Regions from separate parts of the Homo sapiens genome. Here region 2 is linked to region 1. The links come from fine-mapping of genetic effects on gene expression. A gene starts in region 1. The other region holds a variant in brackets. All regions are shown on one strand. Distances are from middle to middle.

Region 1 (8,323 bases):
CTCTCTCTCTCTATATATATATATGTGTGTGTGTGTGTGTGTGTACGTGTGTGTGTGTGTGTGTGTGTGTGTGTGTGTATATTTCCAGTGTCAGATACTCCAGGTTGCTACTGCACAACACTTAATGCTAAGGAAAATCTTGCCAATGAAATCCCAGTGGGCACGATGAAAAGCCCACGAGGGGGACACAGAGGGCAGGGGGCCCTTGCCTACACTCCTCTTCTTGTCCCTGCATGTGGTTGGCCCTGACCAGAGGGAGGAAAAAGCAGATGTCGACGTGGACCACTGTGAGACATGGCGAGCACCCTGCATGTCACCTGCCCCATAGTGGGGGCCAGAGCTGGAGAGGGTGGGTGGGGTCCAGGCTGGAAAGCCCCTGGAGAGGGGCTAGAGAGGTCTCTGTCACTTCATCACGTTCACTCCGTCTCCAGTGGCCCCGTATCTGGCACGCCCACTCTGACATGAGGAGGAGTGCTTGGAGAGCCTCGGTCTGAACAGCCCTAAACTTGGAGGCCTCCCTTCCAGGCGCCCAGCCCTGAAGGGTCTGCAAATCCCTTGCACTCACTGCCTCCACCCTTCAGGCCAATGGCAATTGCTGCCTTTGACAGACAGCCTCAAGGGACCTCAATAAAGGAAGCAACAATAGGGCAGAAAAACAAGGTATGTTCAACAACACTGTTGAGCGCCTGCTATGTGTCAGGAATGATGTCTGCGAGGTAGACTAGGAATGACCTCCATCTGACAGTGAGGAGGTGGGCTCAGAGGTTGAGGAGCCTGCCCAAGTGGATGACGGTGCTAGAATGGGGACCAAGTTCAGCTTGTAGCCACCTCCCTGTACTGCTCTCAAGGAGCTCCCGCCTGCTAAGTGCTGTGGCTATGGCACCAAGCCCAGCTTGTGGGGTGACTCAGAAATGGCTTCCCAGAGGGACCTGCTAGGAAGAGGAAGCTTCCGGCAGAATTAGGAGCTGCTTGGAAGGAGAGAAAAGGTGGGGGTTATATGTGGAAGGTTAGGATGATTGGAGCCTAGGGGCAGGGTCCTGTGGGGGAAACGTGGCAGAAAGTAGGCTAAGGAGACATCCAGAGCCAGAGTCCAGGAGAGCCAGGCAGCAGGCTCTCATCACCACCCCGAGCAACCAATAGGTCCAAATCCCCAAGAGATCAGCCACCATGGCAGGGCTGGGCTTAGAGCCTAGGTTTCTGTCTCAGGCTTGTCCCAATAACCCACGGCAGCCCATGGCTGTGGAGAAACCCTTGCACTGCTCACTATTGTTGAAGAACTAGAGTACCCTCTGCAGGGAGAGCAGAGCTCACTCTGAGTGCTGGGGACCCTGGAAGTACAGCAATCCAGGATACATGCACCCCATCCTGGCTCCAACCTGGGTTACATACACCCCACCCCAACTCCAACCTGGAGTATATGCATCCCATCCCAGCTCCAACCTGCGGTACATACATCCCACTCCAATTCTATCCTGGGTTACATACACCATACCCCAGCTCCAACCTGGAGTACATACATCCCACCCCAACTCCAACCAGGGGTACATACGCCCCACCCCGACTCCTACCTGGGGTATATACACCCCACTCCAACTCCAACCTGGGGTACATACATCCCACCCCAATTCTATCCTGGGTTACATACACCCCACCCCAACTCCAACCTGGGGTACATGCACCCCACCCTGCCTCCAACCTAGGGTACATACAGCCCACCCCAACTCCAACCTGGGTTACATACACCCTACTCTGGCTCCAAGCTATGGTACATACACCCCACCCTGGCTCCAACCTAGGGTACATACACCCTACTCCAACTCCAACCTGGGTTATATACACCCCACCCTGGCTCCAAGCTGTGGTACATACACCCCATCCAGCTCCAACCTGGGGTACATGCATTCCACCTGGCTCCACCCGGGGAGCACCTGGCTCCCTGAGGGCCGGGAGGTGACACACAGCTGAGGAGTGCTGTGTGATTTATATAATCTCTCTCCTCCATGAGGCTCCCTGTCCCCATCTCACAGGTTTGGAAACAGGTCCATGGAGGGGTGTGATTTACCCAGTCACTCAGTGGGTCAGCATCAAGGAACCCAGTGTGCTTTCAGCTCCTACACAGTGACTTCTACCCAGGCCCCCCGTCACAGGAGAGGGGCCTCCGCTAAAGATAAGGAGATAAGATTAGGAGGGCTCAGGCCATCAACTGGAGCTTGTGAAAGGGGTTGCCGAAGAGAGGTGGTTGTTTCAAGAGCAACGGTTGGGCTGGTAACATTGCTGTGGGAGGAGGAGGCTGTGGAAGGCACCGGGCAGGGTTTCGGTAGGGTGTGGGGGTGGGGGAGGAGAAAGGACACTTGGAACAGCCTCCCTGGGAGTCTGGAGCAGGCACGGGGTCCACACTGAAGAAGGAATGGACGTGTCCTCCTGAAGAAGGGGCGAGGACACGCAGGCTGCTGGCCACAGTGGTGGTGACTCTGGAACTGTCTCAGGGATGAGCATGTGCTCTCCAGGCAGCCGGGATGAGGTCAGAGGCAAAGGATGAACCTGGCTCATCCAGGGCAGGGAACTACAGGAGGAAGGCTTAGGTGCAGAGAGGGTGGGCCCTGGCAGAAGGCCGACTGGGATGCACTCTGCACTTAAGGTGGAAATGGAGGCGCACTTAAGGTGGAAATGGAGGCTCACCCAAGGTCACGAAGCTAGTGACAGGGCTGGATTCAATCCAGGCCAATCAGACCCTGGTGCAGCACACTGCCTCTAAAGAAGCTACTTCTCACCAAGCCCAATAGGAACTCATAATTGAAATCTACTTCTCAGAGTAAACCTACTACTGATTGGCACCTAAGAAACTCCAAGAGAATAAAGCCCATGGCGGGCGCTTACTTTTAGGCTCTGCAGCAGCTCACTGGGCTGGGTGTTTTACCTGTGACATCTCGCCATGTCCCCAAAATGGCCCCATGAGGGATTTCACTGCCAGGCCCTGCCTCAGTCACAGCCTCACACTCTCCCTGGCACCTTGGAGGGAGTGAGTAGGGCTAGGGGATAAGGAGAGGGGCCAAATCATTCATCACAGATCATTCATTCACTCAACAAACACCTGCTAAGCACATACTAAATGCTGGGCTTTGAGCTGGGTATGGGGGGTGTGTATAACAGTAAGGCAGATTCAGTTTCTGCCCTGTTGCAGGAGGAGAGGCACCCTTCCAATCATCTGGCCCAACTCTCATTCTAGGGATGTGAAAACTGAGGCCTGGAGAGGGAAAGTGGCTTGCCCAAGGCCATGCAGCCAGGCGGTGGCGACTGAGGTGCACCGCTCCTGTCAGCCAACAAATATCCATTGAGCGACACCTGTGTCCCAGGTGCTGCTCTGGGCCCTGGGAGAAGTGCATCAGTGGGCTTGGTAGTAGAGGGTAGGGATGGAGTGAAGGGTAGGCAGGAAGAATGTCCCCAGGCTGGTAGGAGGTGGGGTGGGGGGTTTCAGTCTCAAAACTCCCATGAAAACCAGAGAGAAGTTTCAGAACTCCACCCAAGAGGCTGGGTTTCTAGGGCCCAGAGCTGCCCTCCCCCACCCTAGAATGGGCTATAAAAGTCCCTTCCCAGCTACGTCCAGAGAAGAGCTGGAGGAAGTGAGAGGTCGGCTGGGGGTCCTCAAAGTGAGAGGGGAGCAGAGGATCCTCCCGTGCAGGCTGTGGATGTCACTCACTTCCCAGCTGGTGAAGCCTCGCTGCAGAGATGCATCTGCTCCCAGCCCTGGCAGGGGTCCTGGCCACACTCGTCCTCGCCCAGCCCTGTGAGGGCACTGACCCAGGTAATAGTCCCCTAGACAGGCAAGGAGGAGGGAGGGGAAATGGAAGGGGAAGCACTTGGGTCTTGGAGGGGGTCTTGTGGCTTGCTGAACCCTGAGTCCCCATCTCTTTGAACAGCCTCCCCTGGGGCAGTGGAGACCTCGGTCCTGCGAGACTGCATAGCAGAGGCCAAGTTGCTGGTGGATGCTGCCTACAATTGGACCCAGAAGAGGTGGACTTGGGTCTGGGGGCTGCATGGGCCTGGGAGGATCAGTGAGGGGCATGGGCCCCAGCCAAGTTCATCTCACTCATCAGCCACCTCTGGACCCCATGAACATTTCCTGTTGGTAGAGCCTCCCTTCCATCCATCCTTCTGTCCGCTTGCCCTGTCCTGACTGTGCCCCAGGACTGGGTCTCTGCTGGGTGGGTCTGCACCCTCTCTCCAGCCCTCACTCCTCCTCTCCTGGGCAGCATCAAGCAGCGGCTTCGCAGCGGTTCAGCCAGCCCCATGGACCTCCTGTCCTACTTCAAACAACCGGTAGCAGCCACCAGGACAGTTGTTCGGGCCGCAGATTATATGCATGTGGCTTTGGGGCTGCTTGAAGAGAAGTTACAACCCCAGCGGTCCGGACCCTTCAATGTCACTGGTACTCTGATCCCCACTGAGCCCGCTGGGCCTACCCTGGCCTGGAGTAGAAGGAATCCAGGAGAGGGAGGCAGGGTGCACAGGTTTGGGGTGCTGGGAGGAGAGAGGGTAAAGGGATGGGAGGTACAGAGCAGGCCAGCTCAGGTCTGCCCATTTGCCTTCCCACAGATGTGCTAACAGAACCACAGCTGCGGCTGCTGTCCCAGGCCAGTGGCTGTGCTCTCCGGGACCAGGCCGAGCGCTGCAGCGACAAGTACCGCACCATCACTGGACGGTGCAACAACAAGTGCGTGCGGGGCGGCAGGAGGGGCTGCCCCTGCCTGGGGGACCTCTCCCTTCCTGCACCCACCCTCTCCCTCCATGCTGAGCCATCTCCAGGCCCTGCCCCCTGCTAACCTATCCCACCCATGGCTGCAGGAGGAGACCCTTGCTAGGGGCCTCCAACCAGGCTCTGGCTCGCTGGCTGCCCGCCGAGTATGAGGATGGGCTGTCGCTCCCCTTCGGCTGGACCCCCAGCAGGAGGCGCAATGGCTTCCTTCTCCCTCTTGTGAGTTGGGGCTGAGGGTTTGGGAGGTTGCTTGATCTCTTAAATGCGGGGAGTAAAACACAGCCCAGAGTCACGCAGGCAGGGCTTGAACCCAGGCCCTTCCACTGACCAGTGCAGTGACTTGAGGCAAATAACACAGCTTTCTGAGGCTTAGTTTCCTCATCTGTAAAATGGCCCTAAAACCTACCTCGTAGAGCCTGTGTGGATATTGAAGTCCTTGGTATAAATAGCTATAGAGGACATGATCTATTCATGCTAACCATTACGGTGTTGTACGGTTTTTTCTGAGAAAATTAGTGTCAAAGTCTTGCTAAATATAAACAGCTCTATACCTTAATCTGGCTTTATCTATTGATCTATTTCACATTTATCAACTCATCAGTTTTCTATTGATATATCGATAGAGCAGTCTATCATCTACCCATCTATCAACATCTATTAATTAATTTTCTTCTATCCACCCTTCCATCTGCTGACCCCGTACTCCCTACGTGTATTATCCATCACCTGGCAACCAGCCCATGCACCTGTGAATCCGTGCTATCATCTGGTTAGCTATCAGTGTACAAATTGATCTATCTATTTGATCTCCCTTCCCCTCTGGGAGAGCTGGTGAGGTCTGAGCCAGTCAACCTAGCCCCTCTCCTTCTCTTTACCACCGGAATCCTCAGGAGCCCAGCCAGAAACCATCCTTCTAGGAATGAGAGCAGGAGGTGGCTACGCCTCCAGGGACAAAAGGGGCATGGAGGGCAGAAGAGGAGAGGCTGTCAATTCCAGCAGGGGAGCTGCTGCTCCCTGAGTCCTGGGTTGGCTCTAATACCTTGTGGGGTCAGGGAGCCCATGTCCCGTGCTGATGTTATTTCCCCACCAGGTCCGGGCTGTCTCCAACCAGATTGTGCGCTTCCCCAATGAGAGACTGACCTCCGACCGTGGCCGAGCCCTCATGTTCATGCAGTGGGGCCAGTTCATTGACCATGACCTGGACTTCTCCCCGGAGTCCCCGGCCAGAGTGGCCTTCACTGCAGGCGTTGACTGTGAGAGGACCTGCGCCCAGCTGCCCCCCTGCTTTCCCATCAAGGTACCTACCCTCAGCCAATCTCCCATGCCCTTGTGTGGCCTCCCCCAAAGGCAAGGTGCTGGGGGTGGGGATCTGGAAGACTGGAGCACCATCCTTAAGGAGCTGCCTGTGGAGCTAGGGTATGAGACAGAGACACAAGAAACACAGCTGAGCAGAGACCCCGCGCCGTGTGTGTTTGAGAGGTGGGGGTAGGGCAATCTGCCAGGAGGCTCAGGTCAGGCTTCATGGAGTGGGAAGCCCTTGACACATGCCTTGACCCATGGGTCTGAATCCAACAGGGGAAGCCTCTGGGCCCCTGCTTTTGGCAACCTAAGGGCCTCTTAGCTCTTGCCCTTCTCTCCTTCCCAGAGTAGTCCAAGGGTCCTGCGGCTCTTGCCAGCTTCTTGGGCTTGGGCTGTAAGTAGGGTCCTAACCTTCAGGCTAGAAGCCAAGGACAGTGTGGGGCACTAGGGGAGGAAAGATAGAATCCAGGGAGCAGAGTCTCTGCTAGGAACATAGGGTTGACACACGTGCACACACACACTCTCTCACACACACACACGTGCACACACACGCTCCCTCTCACACACACATGTACACACACAGTCACCCTTAATAGGTGGGGCCACATTCATGAGGGATGACATGTGAGGGCCTCTGGATGGCCTCTCCCTGTTGCAACCTTATCTATTCCTCAATCCCTGGCTTAGGGGCACCTCCTCTGGGGAGCCTTCTCAGATCTTCCTATTACACTTTTAACATATGTCCTCCCCTCCCCTCTCCTCTCTCTCCTTCCTTCCTTCTTCCTTCCTCTTTCTTTCTTTCTTCTTTCTTTCCTTTCCTTCCTTCCTTCCCTTCCTTCCTTCATTTCCTTCCTTCCTTTCTTTCTTTCTTTTTCTTTCTTTTTCTTTCTTCCGTCCTTTCTTTCTTTATCTTTCCTTCTTTCTTTCTTCTTTATTATTATTATTATTGTTTTGAGACAGAATCTCACTCTGTTGTCCAGACTGGAGTACAGAGGGGCAATCTCAGCTCACTGCAACCTCTGCCTCCTGGGTTCAAGCAGTTCTCATGCCTCAGCCTCCCGAGTAGCTGGGATTACAGGCATGTGCCAACAAGCCTGGCTAATTTTTGTATTTTTAGTAGAGATTGGGTTTCACCATGTTGACAAGGCTGATCTCAAACTTCTGGCCTCATGTAATCCACCTGCCTCGGCCTCCCAAAGTGCTAGGATTATAGGCGTGAGCCACCACACCTGGCCCACATATGGCTTTTCTATCAAGCACAGCAGATGCCACTTCAACTTAGTTTCTTAACTCTATGTGTGTGTGTCTTTTTCCACTGAACTGCCAGCTTCCTGCAACCTTTCCTGTGTTTTTTTAACCTTCATAATCTCCAAAGCAGCAAGCAAGAAAGGGGCTTAGAAAAGGTCTGTCGAATTGAACAGAATTAAAGAAGCTCAGGCCTAAGAGTCAAGAGAACTAAGTTCTAATCCCACCTTTCCTGCTAACTGGTTGTCACTTCCCCTCTCTGAGGCTGTTTTCCTTGCTGTAAAATGAGGATCGAGATTGTTTCAAAAGCCTCATTCATTCCTAACCTTTTGAGACTCTATGAAACAAAATGTTAAGGACACTCAGACTGACGGGGTGAGCAGCATGAGCCTGGGTGAGTCAAGGAGGGCTTCCTGGAGGAAGGGAGTTTTAAGCAAGGTTTTGAGGAGGTGGAAGATGACGGAGAGGAGTGAGTCTGCTATTGAGGGGGCCCCATGTCACTGTCTCCTCTTCCATCTCAGATCCCACCCAATGACCCCCGCATCAAGAACCAGCGTGACTGCATCCCTTTCTTCCGCTCGGCACCCTCATGCCCCCAAAACAAGAACAGAGTCCGCAACCAGATCAACGCGCTCACCTCCTTTGTGGACGCCAGCATGGTGTATGGCAGTGAGGTCTCCCTCTCGCTGCGGCTCCGCAACCGGACCAACTACCTGGGGCTGCTGGCCATCAACCAGCGCTTTCAAGACAACGGCCGGGCCCTGCTGCCCTTCGACAACCTGCACGATGACCCCTGTCTCCTCACCAACCGCTCGGCGCGCATCCCCTGCTTCCTGGCAGGTCAGACAGGGAGGAAGGTGGTGTCTTCCCAGGAAACAGCCATCCCTGGGGTCCCAACTGGGAAGCAATGGTGGGATGTGGTGAAGGTACATGGTTTGGGACCTCAGTATTAGGCACACCATAAGCATGGATCTGTGCACAGCCATCATAGAATCAGAACGTTGAGTCCCTTTGCAAGCTCCCTGT
Region 2 (8,323 bases), 85 kb after region 1:
ATACCGGACCTGGGCCTAACAGAGTGGCACTGAGAGGCATAAATAGAGTTCTACTGCTTGCTGGCTGGGTGACCTTGGACCAATTATTAACCTCTCTGAGCCTGAGTTCCTCAAATGTACATTAAGGATAATTATATTGCCCTCTGCCTTAGAGGACTAAATAGCAAATCACTTTTTTAGTCATTGTGATAACTTCCTTGTCCTCAAGTTATTAATGTCTCATTTCTGCAACTATCTTATAAAGTCCTTGAGAGCAAGGGAAATTGAAGTTGTTGAAATTCTTCACAGTGCCCACCAAGTGCCTGCCCACAGTAAGGCTCAGTTTAGGTTTGTGGAAAGCAGGGAGGCAGGAAGGAACGAAGGGCCATTCTGGCATGATTTTCCCTGTGAAAAGTGAAGACATGGAATAGTCTCACTCTACATTCTAGAGTCTAGAAGTTATTTTGGAGTGTAAATGAATTTCACTTGAGTTCTTAGTGCAAATCAAAAACTCACCCTTAGCACCGAAAACTCTCTCCTCCAGAATCTAGGAGTGTGTGTGTGTGTGTGTGTGTGTGTGTGTGTGTGTGAGTGTGTGTATGTCTGCCTCTGCCTCTGAGGGAGAGGGTGGGGGCAATGAAGCACCAGATGTTGAGAGACAGAACCAGGAACATTGCCCCAGGGGTAAATGAGGCTAAGGACATTGGGTGGATTATGACAGAGCCAAAAAGAAGAGGTGAGTGGGCTGAACACAGTGACTCGTGCCTGTAATCCCAGGGATTTGGGAGGTCGAGGAGGGCGGATTACTTGAGCCCAGGAGTTTGAGACCACACTGGGTAACGTGGCGAAACCCCGTCTCTACAAAAAATACAAAAATTAGCCGGGCGTGGTGGCCCGTGCTTGAAATCCCAGCTACTCAGAAGGCTGAGATGGGAGAATGGCTTGAGCCTGAAAGGTGGAGGTTGCAGTGAGCCAAGATCGCACCACTGCACTCCAGCCTGGGCAACAGGGTAAGACCCTGTATCAAAAAATAAAAATAAAATAATAATAATAATTTTTAAATTTTATTTTATTTATTTATTTATTTTGAGATGGAGTCTCGCTCTGTCACCCAGGCTGGAGTGCAGCAGCGCCATCTCAGCTCACTGCAAGCTCTGCCTCCCAGGTTCACGCCATTCTCCTGCCTCAGCCTCCCAAGTAGCTGGGACTACAGGTGCCCGCCACCACGCCCGGCTAATTTTTGTATTTTTAGTAGAGATGGGGTTTCACCGTGTTAGCCAGCATGGTCTTGATCTCCTGACCTCGTGATCCACCCGCCTCCGCCTCCCAAAGTGCTGGGATTACAGGCATGAGCCACCGCGCCCAGCCCTATAATTTTTTTAATTTTAAAAAGAAGAGGTGAGTGGGTAAAGGAGCTAAGAGTGACAGTGAGATGGAGGGAAGAAGAATTTACTGAACAGCTACTTGGGCGCTAAACCAAACATTCAACCCTCCCAACACCAATAACAGACCCACAGGAAAGAAGACTGCAGGGAGCAAACCTGCGAAGAAGGAGAGGGAAGGGAAGGAGGCTTTGTCAAGCACTTACTATCTGAAAGGTGTTTTCATATATGTATTATAATCCTTACAGCCTCATGGATGAAGAAGGCAAGGCTCAGGAGCGTTAGGAACTTGCCCAAGGTCACACAGCTAGGATGTTGCAGGGACACATCTGGATCCCGTGTGCCCGGTGTTCAAGACGGCCTACCTGGACCATGGCCCCCACGATCTTCCGGGCTTCCTGGTAGAGCCTCTCCCCATCCCACCTAGGGTTCAGGCTCTTGAGCTCTGTGGCCAGCCGGTTGTGCTCCCGAAGTAAGAGGGTGTGCATGGAGGTGAGCTCGGGCATCTCACTGGAACGGGTGTCCCCTTGGGGAGGCAAAAGCCACTGTCATTCTTAAGGCCTCCATCCCAGAAAAGATTTGCTCCACTGAAACCCCCTCCCCAGCCAAGGCCTGAAATGCCTCCTACTCACCCCTCCTCCCCATCCATCTTTTCAAACTATCCCCAATTTACACTCCTCTAGGAGGCCTTCCCTGATGCCCCAGTCCACAATGATAGCTTCTGCCTCAGCTCAGGGCCGCTGCTGGTTGGGGATGCTCATTCAATAGGTATCACTTCCAACACATGACATGCCACTTTCCTGTACCTGAAACTGGGAGCTCCTTGAGCACAGGACCAAGGCTTGTGCCTTTTTATATTTTACCCTCCCTCCTAGCACACATATGGATACATGGGGCTTAACAGAGTGCCTGGTACAAAGTATGAGACTTATGAACACTGCTTGGTTCATTGATTCTCTTGATTCCAAGGAGTGTCTGGGAAGAAGCATGCGTGTTGGCACAGCCTACATCCATGCCCATGTCTGATGCAGCTAACGATCACAGCACTCTTTCCTGCTAAAATTGGATGCAACCTCAGAATCCTTCTCAACACAGGACTCCAGAAAGCCACTACCATTTGAACAGAGTTGTCAGCCCTGCCCTTTACTACATGCCAATGGTGCAGCCTGCCCCAGGGGAGAGGGCTAGGACATGAGATATGTGGAGTCCACACCTGAGACTGTTCAAGAAAACTAAGCAGATCCCCCCTGGTTCCCCTAGTCCTCCCAGAACCCTTCTCTGCAGGGGCCAGAGGGCTAGGGTCAGGACACTAGGGTCAGTCCTTGCCAGCTCTAGAAGCTGGTGGAAAGGAAATTCTCTGAGAGCAGCATCTCCATCCATGAACAGCTAGAGGTCATAATGACCCAGGCTTGGGACATGGGGCTCATCAAAGCCAGGCTGTGGGCAGCTGAGTCTGGCTAAGGAGGGCTGCCCTTGCCTAACTAGCCCAGAAGAGGTCGGGCATCTCTTGCAGAAAGTCCGACCTGGATCCTCCTCCCAGGGTCCCAGCCAGGGAGAGACCAGCAGGAACCATCAGGAGGAGGCAGAGGGAGGCCAGAGGAAAGGGCCTGAGGTCCACTATTGGGTTTACATTTAAAAACACTGGAAAATGGCTGCGTGCGGTGGCTCACACCTGTAATCCCAGCACTTTGGGAGGTTAAGGTGGGCAGATCATGAGGTCAGGAGTTTGAGACCAGCCTGGCCAACATGGTAAAACACCATCTCTACTAAAAATACAAAAAATTAGCCAAGTGTGGTGGCAGGCGCCTGTAGTCCCAGCTACTCAGGAGGCTGAGGCAGAAGAATCACTTAAACCCAGTTGGCAGAGGTTGCAGTGAGCCGAGACTGTGCCACTGTACTCAAGCCTGGGTGACAGAGTGAGATTCCGTCTTAGAAAAAAAAAAAACACTGGAAAATGTCTGGTCATGGCTGCCATCACTGCCCCAATTGTGTCTCCAAAACTGCCAATTGTTTACATTTAAAATCCCATCATCTCTTATTATGGGTAATTAAGATGCGCAGGAGGGGATATTTTGGAGCAGTGTGGTCCAACTCAACCTTCCGAGATGATGAAAATATTTTACATCTGTGCCACCCAATAGGGGGAGCCACTAGACTGTAAGGCAATTGAGCATTTGAAATGTGGTTAGCACCGCTGAGAAACTGGGTTTATTTAATTTAAAATAACTAAAATTAAAATAGCCACATGCAGCTAGTGGCTACCACATTGGATAGTGTCGCTCTAG[A/T]GGGTGAGGGCACCACAGCGTTCTCTGTCCTTTAGTTCCCTGCCCCTGAGGGATTTGACTCTCTTGTCTTCCAGAGTCCAGAAGGGAAAAAAGGGACAGAGAAAGCAATGGACTGATGGACAGAGGCTCCTCAGCCATGCCTGGGTCTCCATCTTAGGGTTGGAGAGGTTGTTTGCTTTTCTGCTTTTCTGGCTCCATCTGACTTGTTACCAAGGCAACTGGATTAATATCATGAAGTTGATAGTAATGGCTGGTGAGGACAGTCTCTCTAAGTACAAACCCACAAGCTGCTCACAAACAGACTCACTGTGGCTCCAACAGGGAACATCTCCTATGCCACCTCTGGTCCCCACCCCAAAGCTGACCTGCCAGGAAGCAGGGGATGCGCGCTGAGCGGTTGGTGAGGAGACAGGGGTCATCGTGCAGGTTGTCAAAGGGCAGCAGGGCCCGGCCGTTGTCTTGGAAGCGCTGGTTGACGGCCAGCAGCCCCAGCTGGTTGGACATGTTGCGCAGGTTCCTGGCCAGGGGCTCCTCGCTGCCGTACACCATGCTGGCGTCCACGAAGGAAGTGAGCGCGTTGATCTGGTTGCGGATGGTGATGTTGCTCCCGGGGCAAGCCGGGCAGGAGCGGAAGAACGGGATGCAGTCGGCTTGGTTCTTGATGCGGGGGTCATTGGGCGGGATCTGAGGCACAGAGAGAGGCTAGACTGGCTCACCGAGGGCAAGGAAGGTGCCCAGGCAGAACTGGATCTCCCCCTGCCCTCAGGACCTCTGGTACCCTCAACCTGCAGAGAGGCCTCCGGAGGCCCGAAAGGGATCGCTGCCTAGGGCGCCATCAGCAACAGCCTCTGAGGTGCAGGGTTAATGAGCAGAACACTGAACTGGGAACCTGGGCAACCCCTGGGTCTGGGCACCGCCAGGCCTCGGATCCCTCCTCACTAAAGCGTCGCCCGTCTCTCTCCCCTTCTCTCTGCTGTGCCTGCTCTCCCTCTGGCCCTGACATTCTCCTGTCTGTCTCTCCCTCTCTCAGGCGCTCTCTCCTTTCTCTCCTCCTCCTTCCCTACTCAGCAGTGCCTCGACCACCCTGCCCACTCCCAGCCCTGTCCCACGGCACCCACCAGACCCCCAGGCTCTCTCTTTCTGTGTGATGGGGGTTGGGGCTGCCCTCTCAGTGGGGCGGAAACAGGACTGAGCATGGAGGCTTGGGGGGCACTGAGAAGGTCTCCTCCCAGAACCCTCTCCCAACCTAACAAAGAGCCAGTGATTCCACCAACAGGACTCCTGTCAGCCAAGGAGGAACAACCCTCTCTCCCTTGGCCTGCCAGAGGCAGTGAGCAAATGGACGGCCCTGGCTGCCAGCTGGCTGAGCCCAGGCGCAGGAAGGAGACAGGTCATAGCTGAGCAGCCAGTGCTGTGGACACAAGGGAGGCAGGGCCAGCCTTCCTCAGCGTCTGGGAAAGGAAACCTGGGCACAGAAGGGAGATGGCCCCTTCCAGAAACAATCTCCCCTCTCCCAACCCAGGCAGTGGGCGGGAAGCAGGGCCACCTTGAGCGGGAAGCAGGGCGGCTGCTGAACGCAGCTGGTCTCGCAGTTGACGCCAGTGACGAAGGAGGCCCGGGCGGCCGGCTCAGGGGTGAAGTCGAGGTCGTGGTCCAACAGCTGGCCCCATTGCATGAACATGAGTGAGCGCTCCTGGTCCGGAGTCAGCTGATCAGTGGGGAAGCGCACGATCTCGTTGGAGACCGCGCGAGCCTGCGGGACACGGAGATCAGCTGGCGCCTGGGTCCGCGCACCGCGTGGCCGGGCCTCGCCCCCTCTGCCCGCCGGCGCTCACCAGAGCCACCGGGAAGCCGTTGCGCTTGACCCCGGGCGTCCAGCCGTAGGGAAGAGAGAAGCCGTCCTCATACTCCGCCGGCAGCCAGCGCACAAAGGCACGGTTGGAGGCCCCCAGCGTGGGGCTGCGTCTGCAGGGGAGGACAGGGCGCTGACACCGGGAGGCTTGTGGCGTCCGGGACGCCTCTCTGAGCCCGGTTCCTGCAGCCACCCCCAGCCAGCCGCACCTGTTGTTGCACATCCCGGTGATGGTGCGGTATTTGTCCTGCTCCGGGCAAGTCACCCCCACGTCCTGGTAGGCGCAGCCGCTTGACTTGGACAACACATTCAGCTGGGCGGGCGTCAGCACATCTGCCGGGGGAAAGAACAATGGGGGAGCTGAGCCGCCTCACTTCCTATCCCAGGCAACCTGAGGCTGAGGAGCCCTGGAGACTCCTGAGACTCCCTGGAGGAAGAAGTTGAGGGGATCACTGAGAGACGGCTGGGGTCCCTAGGAGGAGTCACTAGTGGAGCAGGGACCTGGGGTGTGATGGGCAACAGTACCAGTGACATTGAATGGCCTTCGCCACAGGGACCGCAGCTTCCTCTCCAGCAGGTCTAGAGCCACGTGCAGGTAGTCAGCGGCCCTCACCGCCGTCCTGGTGGCTGCCACCGGCTGCTTGAAGTAGGATAGGAGTTCCATGGGGCTGGCTGAGCCGCTGCGAAGCCGCTGCTTGATGCTGCTTGGAGAAAGGAGGAGTGAGGGCCAGAGAAGGGATACAGACCCACCCAGCAGAGCCCCAGCCCAGGGGCAGACATGCAGGACCATGCAGGCAGGCCCACGGGTGGGAGGAAGGCTTCCTTTTATAAAAAGGATATGGACCTGGGTGTCCAGACAGAGGCAAGGCTTTGGGAAGGATGGCTTTTAAGCTGTTCTCCCATCCAGAAACACAGGGACAGACAGACAGAAAGGGAGTCCACATGGGTCCCCATAGTCCCCCTCTCCCACCTTCAAGCTCCCTGCTGCCTGCTGCTTCTCTGAAAGGCCTGGGACATCCTTGCCCAGAGCTGGGCAGTGCCTCGTGCCCCACCTTTCCCGCCGCTCCTTGTAGGCCTTGTCCACCAGCTGCTTGGCCTCCTCCATGGAGCTCAGCACCAACGAGGTGTCCACCTCCCCCAGGACAGCTGCCCAGAGCAGGGATCACAAAGTCAGGAATGGGCCCCAACCCCCTATCAGGCCCCAGAGCTAGGAAGGCCTGCTCTGAGAAAAGGGGTCTCTGGAACACAACCACCCCAACACACCATCTTCTCCCACCTTGGGAACTGTTACCTGGAGCAGCACCTTCAGAGGGCTGGGGCGTGGCCAGAATGGCCAGGAGCCCTGCTAGGGCCAGAAGCAGCTTCATCTCTGCAGTGAGACCCCCAGCCCAGCAAGGTCCTAAGTCCACCATGCATCTGAGAGAAGAGAAGAAGGGAACCCCCATCTCTCTTCTCCTGGGCTGCTCAATCCCCCTTTGTACCTCAGCCCCACCTCAGAGGGCCCTGTCTATGGATAAAGCCAGACCTCCTTGAGGGAGGGGCTCACTGCTCTCTTATCCCCTTGCCAGCTGCTGTCATCCAGCTTCCAAGGACCCCACCTCCACAGCTCACCTGATATTGTCAGCTCCTCTTAGCTCAATCTGCGCTTTTATGTCCTCTAAGCTGGGGGTGGGGTGAGGTAGAGGAAGGTCTGATCCTGGAGACTGAACTCTTTCTCCTCCCCCACTGGGGTTGGAAGGTACACACAGAGGGGCCCCTGAAATGGGGGGAAGGGGCAGGAAAGGAGGGGCCAGCATTGTCCCCAGCCTTTTTTTTTTTTTTTTTTGAGACGTTATCTTGCTCTGTTGCCCAGGCTGATGTGCAATGGTTCAAGCGATTCTTCTGCCTCAGCCTCCCGAGTAGCTGGGATTACAGGTGCCCGCCACCACGCCCTAGCCTCTAGCCACATCATCAATTATTTCCTTAGGCAAGAAGTAATTTTTGTATTTTTCCTTAGGCAAGAAGCTAATTTTTGTATTTTTAGTAGATACAGGGTTTCACCATGTTGGCCAGGCTGGTCTTGAACTCCTGACCTCAAGTGATCCACCCGCCTCAGCCTCCCAAAGTGCTGGGATTACAGGCATGAGCCACTGGCCCCAGCCTGTCCCCAGCCTTTGAATTTAGCACTACCAGCCCAAGATTTCTCAGCTCACCATTGTGTGCCTATACCAGTGCTTGTCCCCAGGGGATACACACAACTAACCCCTCTGAAATTCTGGTTACACTGGTTATCCAGGGTTCCTTTGAAAGGAACAAAAGTCAGGAACTGGTAGCCCAAGGAATTGCAGGGAATAGAGTGCCCCCAGGGAAGACAGGAGGATGAAAGGGAGACCTGGAGTAAAGATGACCCAATTGGCCTCAGGTGGCCATCCCCCACTCCAACAGTAACCTGCATCCAACAGCCACCCAATGGGCAGCCTCTGGTTCTTGGTGGGGCTAAGGGGACAGGAAATCTGGCTGGAGACCGTTGGGCTTCACAGGAAGGAGGACCCTGGGGACTGTGGGCGCAGGACCAAGATAACTTCCTCTATCCCTCCTCACTCCCCTTTCTTCTTGGCTTCTGGTAGAGGGCTGTCTCCAAACTCCTCCTCCCCACCACCATCTGCTCCTGGATTTCAGGAACCAGGAGAGAGCAGAACTGGTTGTGGTTAGTGATCAGTTAGGTGATGCAGCCCAGGGCCTCTCTGGGACAGGATCAGTGCAGTTGGGAGGACTTGGGTTAATGATTCAGAATAATTCTGAAACAGAAGAGGATATTTCTTGCTTGAGAAAGCCCAGCAAAAGGG

Which allele goes with the higher level. Positions count from the first base shown, and alleles are read on the strand shown. Sizes are in standard deviations (SD) of each study's normalised expression.
For the expression in tibial nerve of the gene that starts at base 3,606 in region 1, T is the high allele of the variant in region 2 and A is the other (moderate effect, 0.61 SD a copy in GTEx).

Evidence for each region.
Region 2: its variant is fine-mapped to the expression of EPX in tibial nerve (GTEx, PIP 0.93).

Annotation. Positions count from the first base shown.
Region 1 is chr17:58,189,121-58,197,443 of GRCh38, forward strand. It overlaps EPX (eosinophil peroxidase), which reads left to right and starts at 3,606. Exons shown (of 13, transcript NM_000502.6): 1 at 3,606-3,802; 2 at 3,918-4,011; 3 at 4,251-4,426; 4 at 4,594-4,711; 5 at 4,843-4,972; 6 at 5,844-6,050; 7 at 7,819-8,137. The coding sequence starts at 3,727.
Region 2 is chr17:58,273,816-58,282,138 of GRCh38, forward strand. MPO (myeloperoxidase) reads right to left here and starts at 7,120. Exons shown (of 12, transcript NM_000250.2): 1 at 6,790-7,120; 2 at 6,551-6,644; 3 at 6,024-6,199; 4 at 5,708-5,831; 5 at 5,482-5,611; 6 at 5,193-5,399; 7 at 4,012-4,330; 8 at 1,727-1,887. The coding sequence starts at 6,943. RefSeq lists enhancers at 1-429, 1-245, 431-2,697, 2,692-3,647, 2,692-2,811 and 3 more and promoters at 7,110-7,704, 7,110-7,250, 7,643-8,044, 7,929-8,154, 8,200-8,323. The variant A/T (reference allele first, on the strand shown) is at 3,647.